2 separate regions of the Homo sapiens genome follow, and region 2 is reported to be linked to region 1. Evidence: microRNA targets listed by miRTarBase, many of them from high-throughput screens and not tested one by one. Region 1 holds a microRNA gene; the other region holds the end of a gene's coding sequence.
The links. The annotated mature microRNA hsa-miR-6885-3p reads CUUUGCUUCCUGCUCCCCUAG and lies in region 1 at 1,859-1,879, opposite strand. An mRNA with a match to its seed (bases 2 to 7 or 8) in the 3' UTR can be bound and repressed. Matches are read on the target gene's strand: a 7mer-m8 pairs with bases 2 to 8, a 7mer-A1 pairs with bases 2 to 7 and ends in A, and an 8mer does both.

Region 2: the mRNA of NRIP2 is a reported target of hsa-miR-6885-3p. Seed matches in the 3' UTR shown: 7mer-m8 at 648-654 and 8mer at 1,361-1,368.

What each region holds. Positions count from the first base shown.
Region 1 is chr19:6,387,780-6,392,779 of GRCh38, forward strand. MIR6885 (microRNA 6885) reads right to left here and starts at 1,924; the gene lies at 1,859-1,924. GTF2F1 (general transcription factor IIF subunit 1) reads right to left here. Exons shown (of 13, transcript NM_002096.3): 3 at 4,123-4,195; 4 at 1,665-1,858.
Region 2 is chr12:2,822,598-2,827,597 of GRCh38, reverse strand. It overlaps NRIP2 (nuclear receptor interacting protein 2), which reads left to right. Exons shown (of 6, transcript NM_031474.3): 6 at 299-2,250. The coding sequence ends at 391. ITFG2 (integrin alpha FG-GAP repeat containing 2) reads right to left here. Exons shown (of 12, transcript NM_018463.4): 10 at 4,687-4,804; 11 at 3,655-3,828; 12 at 2,522-3,508. The coding sequence ends at 3,405. Among named protein-coding and RNA genes, the nearest start is that of NRIP2, 9.9 kb to the left of the region's middle. RefSeq lists a silencer at 2,181-2,475.

The sequences.
Region 1 (5,000 bases):
TCGGGATCATTTCTGGAAAGACTGTGTGAGATTATCTCAGGAGAGCCCAACCCTGCAGTCAAACTGTCTACATTTGCCTCCAGCTCTGCTATCTGTGGGCCACACCCGGGAAACTGAGGAGCCAAGTGAGAAGATGGGGCGGGAAGGCATGGCCAAATTTTTTTTTTTGAGATGGAGTCTCGCTCTGGCACCCAGGCTGGAGTGCAGTGGCACCATCTCAGCTCACTGCAACCTCCACCTCCCGGGTTCAAGCAATTCTCATGCCTCAGCCTCCCGAGTAGCTGGGATTACAGGTGTCTGCCACCACACCCAGCTAATTTTTGTAGTTTTAGTAGAGACAGGGTTTCACCATGTTGGCCAGGCTAGTTTCGAACCCCTGACCCCACGTAATCCGCCCGCCTCTGCCTCCCAAAGGGCTAGGATTACAGGCGTGAGCCACCGCGCCCAGCCATGGCATGGCCAAATCTGAAGTGGACACCTGGCCCGGGCCACCATTTCCTCAAGCCTAAACAACTGCCCAGCCTCCTTGAGGCCTCTACCTCATTCTTTTCTACCCCAAAGTTCCGGACAGTCTGGGTGAGTGCCTCTTCCCTGCCTACAGCTTTCCAAGGCTCCGCTGGACCCAGCACATCCTGGCACCCACTGCCCTGTGTGAGCTGCCTGTGTCTGTCACTATCACCCAACTGCTGTGCCTGGAGCACCCTTCATCAACCTAACCTGGACCCCTCCTGTTCTGCCCTCAGTCTGCCCCCTCTGAGAGGTCATCTCAAGTGTCATGAGCTCCCAGGGCTGGCCACCTAAGCTTCCTGCATTGTGGCACTCAGAGCTGCCTCAGAGCCAGGCACAAGCACCAACTCAGTGAACTGTCTTCAAAAACACAACCCCAGGGCCTGGGCAGTGGCTCATACCTATAATCCCAGCACTTTGGGAGACCAAGGTAGGAGGATCACTTGACCCCAGGAGTTCAAGACCAGCTTGAGCAACGCAGCAAGACCCCATCTCTACCAAAAATACAAAAATTAGCCAGGCATGGTGGGGCGTGCCTATAGTCCCAGCTACTCAGGATGCTGAGGTGGGAAGATCTCGAGCCCAGGAGTTGGAGCCTGCAGTGAGCTACGATCGCACCACTGCACTCCAGCCTGGGCAACGGAGTGAGACCCTGTCTCAAAATAAATAAGTAGGCTGGGCACGGTGGCTCACGCCTGTAATCCCAGCACTACGGGAGGCCGAGGCGGGAGGATCGCCAAGTTCGAGACCAGCCTGACCAATATGGTGAAACCCTGTCTCTACTAAAAATACAAAAATTAGCTGGGCGTGGTGGTGGCAGGCACCTGTAATCCCAGCTACTCAGGAGGCTCAGGCAGGAGAATAACTTGAACCTGGGAGGTGTGGGTTGCAGTGAGCCAAGATCGTGCTACTGCACTCCAGCCTGGGCGACAGAGCAAGACTCTGTCTCAAAAAAATACAAGTAAGTAAAATAAGATAACATAAATAAATAAATAAATAAATAAATAATAAAATCCTACAGGGATGGAAGTGCCAGCACTTCCACTGCAGCAGTGGGAATCTGAGGTTCAGAGAGGGTACCCCACAAAGTATGTAAGTTGAGGCCTGGGGATGTGGACTGGTCACTAAGCCGGCACCGCCACCGCCCCACCACTTACTTCCTGCCTGATTTGCCGTTGACCCGGAGCAGCCAGGGCTGGTCCTCGGGCCGGAACTCCTTGAGGACGATGCCGTACTTCTTCCTCCGAGCCTCCTCCCGAAGCTTGCGGTTGAACTCACTGCCCGCGCCCGATTCGGGCATCTCCTCCTCTTGGTAGATTTTCTTGTTGCTCAAGTCCCGCTCCAGCCGAGCCTAGGGGAGCAGGAAGCAAAGCCTCTCAGGGTCCCTGGCTTTGCTTGCGCAGTGCCCCCCTCCAGGAACGCCCTTCCTTGCCCTAGGCCAAGCTCTAGATTCTCAAAACCAACTTACCACTTGGCAACAAGGGAGGAGAACGGTAGCCTTTGACAAATCTGGGTAAAGGGAATTTGGGCGAGCCTTGCGCTCTATTTTTGCAACTTAAAAGCTTGAAATTATTTCCAAATTAAAATTAAAGAGAAAAAGACCACCTGGTGACCATCAAGCAGGCCATCGGAGGCAAAATTCCTTATCTGAGGAATGTAGAAGTAATTAATTAGACTTCCCTATTATCTACAGCAGGCATCTGGTTCCAGGATTCTTTTCAAAAAATGTCTAAGTACCTAGAATTTCCACACATCTCTCCAGAATGCATGCATATCGAAACTCATTGTGCTGTGGCTCACACCTGTAATCCCAGAACTTTGGGAGGCCAAGGCAGAAGGATCACTTGAGCTCAGGAGTTTAAGACCAGCCTGGCATCAGAATGGCTTGAACCTGGGAGGCGGAGGTTGCAGTGAGCCGAGATCATGCCACTGCACTCCAGCCTGGGTGATAGAGTGACACTCTGTCTTAAGAAAAAAAAGGCCAGGCGCGGTGGCTCACGCCTGTAATCCCAGCACTTCGGGAGGCCAAGGCAGGTGGATCACGAGGTCAGGAGATTGAGACCATCCTGGCTAACACGGTGAAACCCCGTCTCTACTAAAAATACAAAAAATAAGCCGGGCATGATGGCAGGCGCCTATAATCCCAGCTACTTGGGAGGCTGAGGCAGGAGAATGGCGTGAACCCGGGAGGCGGAGCTTGCAGTGAGCCGAGATCCTGGCGCTGCACTCCAGTCTGGGCGACAAAGCAAGACTCAGTCCCCAAAAAAAAAAAAAAAAAAAAAAAAGACCAGCCTGGGCAACATAGTGAGATCCTATATCTATTTCCTAAAAATAAAAAGGCTGGGCATGGTGGAAGGCTGAGGCGGGTGGATCACTTGAGGTCAGGAGTTCAAGACCAGCCTGACCAACATGGCGAAACTTCGTCTCTACTAAAAATACAAAAATTAGCTAGGCGTGGTGGTGGGCGCCTGTAATCCCAGCTACTTGGGAGGCTGAGGCAGGAGAATGGCTTGAACCTGGGAGGTGGAGGTTGCAGTGAGCCCAGGTCGCGCCACTGCACTCCAGCCTGGATGACAAGAGACTCCATCACAAAAAAATAAAATAAAATAAATAAAAAGAAACTCATTGTGCAACACTTGCTGACATTAAGGCACCAAAATCTCTACAAATTAACAATTTATCGTGACCTACATGGCTAATGTGATCCGAATTACCCTTAAGCTCTTGATTTAAGGTCCATATATACCATTTCCAAAACACTCTAGAATCAGCCACATCTCATAACCTCCACTGCCTCCAGTGCCCTGCCAGGACTCACCTAGACCAGTCCAGTTGCTTCTACCTTGGTCTCCGTTTATTTGCCCTCAAACCCACAGTTTGTCTCCCCATAGCAGCCAGATCACACACACTACAACTTCCCAATTGAAGATGCTTTAATGGCTCCCAAAGTCCTTTCTAGAGCCTCTGATGGCAGGGGCTCTGGGAAAGCCCCCAGCCCAGTCCCCTCCCTTGCCCAGATAAACCATGGCCAAAAATGTCCAACAGTGGGCACAGCTTCTAAATGTTCTCCTTTAAGGAGAGGCCTCTGGTGGGCCTACCAAACCTAACTTACAGGGACACCCAGGAGCTAGGCCTGGGCCTTTGCCATTTCCGTTTTTTTTTTTTTTTTTTTTTTTTTTTTTTTGAGGCAGGGTCTTGCTCTGTTATCCAGGCTGGAGTGCAGTCGTACAATCATAGCTCACTGCAGCCTTGAACCCCTGGGCTCAAGCGATCCTCCTACCTCAGCCTCCTATGTAGGACTACAGACCCACGCTATCAGCCCCAACTAACTTTTTAATTTTTTTGTAGAGTTGGGGTCTTGCTATTGTATTGCCCAGGCTGGTCTCAAACTCCTGGCCTTAAGCAAGCTTCCTGCCTCAGCCTCCCAAAGTGCTGGGATTACAGGTGTGAACTACTGCACCCAACCCTTTGTCATCTATCTTTTCTTCACTTGGAGAAAAGTGAGAAAATTAAGACTTAGTGACTATGACAGTTAAGCAACTATCACAACCACCAAGGTCAGGGTCAAGTTCTCTCACCACCCCAGCCCCTGACCCCCAGGACTCAGAGACTTACCTGATTCCACGTAGCAAAGTTGACTTTGTCGGCTGCATTAAAAGCCATGATGTTATATTTTTTGGTTGTATTCCTGGAGTGGATGAGAAGAGGTAGTGTCAATCCAATACAGCAATTCAATCATTAATTTAATCAGTCAATGCTATTGAACCATTAATTCAATCAACCACCCAACTGGATCGTTAATTCAATCAAATCATTACTTTAATTCAATCACTCAATTCAATTGAACCATTAATTCAATTCAATCATTCCATTCAATTGAATCATTAATTCAATTCAATTCACTCAACAAACCCACCCAGCTTCATTCAGCCTGTTTTGCCTGGCAACACTGGATACGGAAGACTCCAAGGATTCCCAGTCTGCCAGAGAAGCTAGACCCATCCTCTCCTGACCCCAGGCAGAAGAAGAGCAGATGGAGGGACGAAGATTTGGGGGAACCCAAGATGTGGAGATTATTGTGAACTCAGCCTTGGGGAGGAGGGAGGACAGGCAGGGAGTATTTCCTGGAGGAGGAAGATACTGGAGTTGAGTTTTGCAGAATCATCAAGAATTCACCCAGCAGAGTCACAGTTTAGGGGTTGAGGGGAGGCACTCATGGCAGAGGAACAGGATGTACAAAGGCCTGGAAAGGAAAGACAGCCTGACCACTTTGAAACAGGACGAGGAATATGTCCTTACAGCTGGCCTGGGCATCATGGGACCATATACTCCTCGAAGGTTAGGCCAGGGGGCTGGATCACCGTGTATTAATGCACTCATTCATTCATTCGTTCAAAAAAGCAGTGTTGTCCCCAGAGAAGCCTCAGCTTAATCCCAGCCCTGCCCTCCAAGTCTCTCCCGGTCTGGAGGGAGAACCACAGACAGGGCCAGAA
Region 2 (5,000 bases), not on the chromosome of region 1:
AAAGCACTGGGAAAAAGTAGTAGAAGGCACAGGTGTGGAACCTGGACCAGGTTCTGATGAGAGTGACTTAGAGATGGGCAACTGTCCCTTTGCTTCCTTAGAGGTTCCTTACTTACCACCAAGTGAAAAATCAAGAGAACTGGGTCACCCCCTTCAACAGGAGTCTAGGGAAATGGGGATGGGGGAAGAGCAAAAGGCAGGTGGAAGCTGTGGGAAGTGGGAGGGGGAACAAAAGGAGCAGGCCGGGAGGCAGGTGGCGGGCTGAGGTGACCTGGCATGACTGCTCTACACCCCGCAGTGCTGCATCGACCTGGAGCACGGAGTGCTGCGGCTGAAAGCCCCGTTCTCAGAGCTACCCTTCCTGCCTTTGTACCAAGAGCCTGGCCAGTGACTGCTGTCTCAGTCAGTCCCCAGAGGGAAAGACCTTGCCTTAGAAGAAGAGGCGTGTGGGGAACGGGGGCTCTTGAAGCCAGGTAGCTGGGGACTATGGTGTCTGCCCTTCCAATCACCTCCCTGACCCCTGCTGTCCCATTTTCCCCAGCTGGCCGCATTCCTCTCTGCTTCTCAGCAGCTGTCCTACTCCCCAGGACGAGTTTTCACTAGAGGGCCCACGATGCCAGGATTCTGATTCATCTTCCTCCCAAGAAAAGCAAAGCCAAATCAAGACCACAGATAGGAACCTAAGCACAATGGGGTGCCTGCTTGGGCTGGGTCGAAGGCTCTGCTGACTGCTGTCCTTGTCCATCACCCAATACCACCCCAAACACAACTCAACTTCCCACACCACCATGTCTCTCACCACACCTTCTGGGCCTCATTATCTCCCACAACTAGACCGCCATGCCTCACCAACCTATGTCCCTGGACCTCCTGGTGTCTGCCTCTCGGAGTCTGTGCACATCTGCTCACAGTTGAGTGGGGGAAGAAACAGCCAGAATTCAATACAACAAAGAGCGGGAGTTAGTATAGGAATGTCCATCTCATAAGGCTGAGAGCTATTTTTTCCTGTGGCTGCAAATGTCTGAAGCCAGTTAGTTTGATTACCCTGTGCAAAACCTTGGACATACTTCTGCTATTAACGCTATAGGTATTTATCCGTTTCCACTGGCTTTTTGTACCCACCGAGCCCCTGAGCCTTGCGTGTGTGTGTGTGGAAGAGCCTTGTAGAGAACTGCTCCTGTGAGGCAGACAGGACAGTGAGGTTGTCACCACTCAGACTTCACCTATTCAGCATTCTTTCTGATTTCTAGAACTATCCACCTCATTAGGCCTTCTTCCTATCCCCATCTCTGGCCTCTTGAGCTTAAGCTTGTATTGTCCTGGAATCAGTGGCTTTCTAACCCCCTGCCAGGCTTTGCCAAAGCAAAAAGACAGAGGCTTTTTTTTTTTTTTTAAAGTTTGGGGTCTGTCAGGAGACAGAGGCTTTTTTGAATTCACTGTGAAGAGAAGAACCCGAACCTTAAGACGCCAGATCCCTGAGAGTCTTTCTGGCTGGTTTGAGTCTCTCAAATCATGGATTAGGAGTAAAGAAAGAGGCCAGGCGCAATGGCTCATGCCTGTAATCCCAGCACTTTGGGAGGCTGAGGTGGGTGGATCACTTGAGGTCAGGAGTTTGAGACCAGCCTGGGTAATATGGCAAAACCCCATCTCTACTAAAAAATACAAAAATTAGCCAGGTATGGTGGTGAACACCTGTAATCCCAGCTACTTGGAAGGCTGAGGCATAGGAGTTGCTTGAACCTGGGAGATGGGGGTTGTAGTGAGCCAAGTTCGTGCCATCGGACTCCAGCCTGGGTGAAGGAGTGAGACCCTGTCTCCAAAAACAAACAAAAAAGGAGCAGAGAAAGACAGTGGTACAGCTAACCTGAACAAGGGAACTGGGACCGTTGGGCTGAAACAGTCTTGAGCCTGGGGTTGACTGGGTTAGAGAAGAACCGGGATGCAAGGAGCTGCCTGTGACACCTGGCCTGCCCTTTCTCAGCTGCCTCCCCTGCCCTTTCTCAGCTGCCTCCCCTGCCCTCAGAAGGAAAGGAGAGGGCTCACTTATCACTTGTGCCATAGCACCTGGTCTCAAAATCCTAAAAGCTTTCCTCGCCCTCACTGCCTTGCTCCACAAGGTCCACTTTCCTGGGTCTTGTGCTGTGCCTTTCCTTGTCTGCCTCCTGCTGCTTCTGTAACTGCAGACCCCAGGCCCAATGGCAAGCCCTCGGCTCAGCTGCTTCTCCATTGGAATAAACTCTTGTTTCTCTATGTCGATGTTCTTCTCTGGTCTTCCTCCCTGCCTATCAAGAGCTGAGTGATAATTGCCCATTGTCCCTTACAGAAAGGAAATGTAAATGTGGGCCCTTGCCCAGGCTGACCCATCTGACTAGGGTCAGTATAATTGAGAGGAATTTGAAAGCAATGGCTTTCAAACTCCTCGACCACAGCTTACCACAGCAGGAATACATTTTACATGGCACTCAGTACACACATGCACATATGACTAACAAAACAATACTTACCTACACTGAGAGCAATGTACTCTGCTATTTTCTATTTTACTTTATTCTATTCTACCTATTTAAAAAATGCTGGCCATAATCCACCAAAGGACTGCAACCACAGTTTGAAAAACACCGATTTAGAGCATAGAGAATCAAGAACAGACGGCACATAAATGACCCAAGATATAATTCTGATTGTGGTCTGGATCATAAACCCGCATCACATTTTAAATGTCTATTGTCTTGGAGACAATAAGCTGTTTTATGGGGGAATGGGTGGGTGGAAAAATGGGAGCAGGGCTTCTGAAGCTGACTAATACCTGAAGAATACGGCAACGTGAGAAAGCACTGACCCGGCTGCTTTGGTAAATGGAAGAAAATCATCTCAGGGTTGCTAGGAACATGGGTAAGACCAGACTGTAGAAAGATCCTTCAAAACAAAACAGTTTGCCATTCCTTTAACAATTACTAACGTCAAGAACTTGGAATTGTGCCACGGAAGACAGAGCTTAAGATGGGGTGGAGCCCTTACCTCCACTGCTCCCCTGGGCCTAAAGCCTGGTTTCCTTATGGGTGTTGGGGCCACACAAACAAGTCTCTGTTTTCAACACAGTGACAGTGGGGAGTGGGTCATGTCCCAGATGATTTGGAACAAGGCCAGGGTCCTATGACCCTGCTGGCATGATGGGTGAGGTCCATAAGGAAATGGGCAGAGGGTCAACTTGTCTCTTCTTTCACCGAAAAGACTGCGAGGTCTATAGTTCACGGTCACCCTAGGGCTGCTGCCATCTTTCATGCCCAGAGTCAAATCCTGCATTTCTGTAATGCATATTCCCTATCCTGCCAATACCACAGATACCTTTAGGGGGTAGGGTGGGGGTTCAGAAGAATCCTTCACCAGCTATGAGGCAAGTACAGCTAGGTGGGATCCTGGAGGCTTGAGGGAGCACACTGTGGTGGCTGGTCTGGATGGTAGAGCGTTTGGTGAAGCAGGGCACGAGTCACAGGGAGGTCGTCAGGATCTGAGAGCCAAGAAGGGGTGGGTAAGAGGCTGTGGGTCTCCTGGGCACCCGGGCCACTGGCTTTTCTGGGACTCACCCACGCCCAGCTCCTGCAGCATGCTGTGGGTCTCCTGGGCACTCGGGCCACTGGCTTTTCTGGGACTCACCCACGCCCAGCTCCTGCAGCAGGCTGTGGTACTCCGGCTTGGTCTCCAGCAGTTTCACCAGATTGGTAGACTCCATCCGCTCCAGCTGCACCTCCCAGTACACATAGATCTTCTGGTTGAAAGTGACATATACGAGGCAGGGGCTGTTGCGGCCCTCTTTGCAGGCGTACAGGCCTGGAAGATGTTGGCAGGGAGATAAAGGTCAGGAAGTTTCAGTGCCGACAGTGGGGGGCAGACAGCAAGACACAGACCTCCGAGTCAGCACTTTCCATCCTCCCACTGATGTCAGGAAAAAAATTAAAGGTTATTTCTTCTCTGTTGGGAACTCAGTAAAACAAGTAAGATGGGAAAAGACCTGGCTCACTTCAGATGTAGAAAAACCATAGTAACAAAACCCGGGCAGAATAGCATCCAAAAAGGTGCTATTTATTGCTTTTCCCATCTTAGTGATATCCCTGGAGTGATGAGGGATGGCATTGCTCGCCCAAGGGCGAGACTAGCAAAACACGATCAGAAAGTAAAGCTTCTCTTAGGTGCCAATCCCTCCTTCCAAATGCATCCCCCAGTCACCCAGAGAGTGAGTGCTGCCTCCCAAGGCCCCTGATTTGGAACTAATGAAAATGCTCTAGGAGAACTTTCTTCACAGAGACCTGGCATGCTGAGGTGGAAAAGAACTTCCTGATGTCTTCACACATCCCAGACAGATGACAGAAACTCATTCCATTCTTTAAAATATTCGGGGTGGAGATGTTACTGTCTTTTATTTCTTCTTATTTAAAATTGTCAAGATGGCAATGTAGTGACCACCCCTCACCCCCAAACAAAAGAGCTGAAGAACTCACGGTGAATGAAGACTTACATCACTCACCCCTCACCCCCAAACAAAAGAGCTGAAGAACTCACTGGTGAATGAAGACTTACATCAGGGGATACGTCAGAAAGGGAAGTGAGGGGCAAACACTTCCCTGGCATGCCTAACACGCCTATCTAACTTAAGTGTGGTTAGAAAGGGGCCATGGGGGCGGGGGTCACCTGCACAGAAGGCACGGATATTTTCATCCACTTGGAAGCGGACGACGGTGCGGTTGTGATCAATGATATATGTCTGTCCATCCCAGGCGCATGCAACTACCTCCTCATGCCCGTTGCCCTGAAAAAGGACAGAGACAAAAGGAACATAAAGGAGCTGTGGACTGGATTCTGGATGACAAACAGCGAGCTGGGGAGGAATTTCACCCGTGGGTTCGGCAGTAAACGCAACTGTCAAATGAGCCACCTCACATAATGCTCACAGCCACCCTAGGAAGTAGGCAATTTTATACTGAGGAAACCTCAGCTCATAGAAA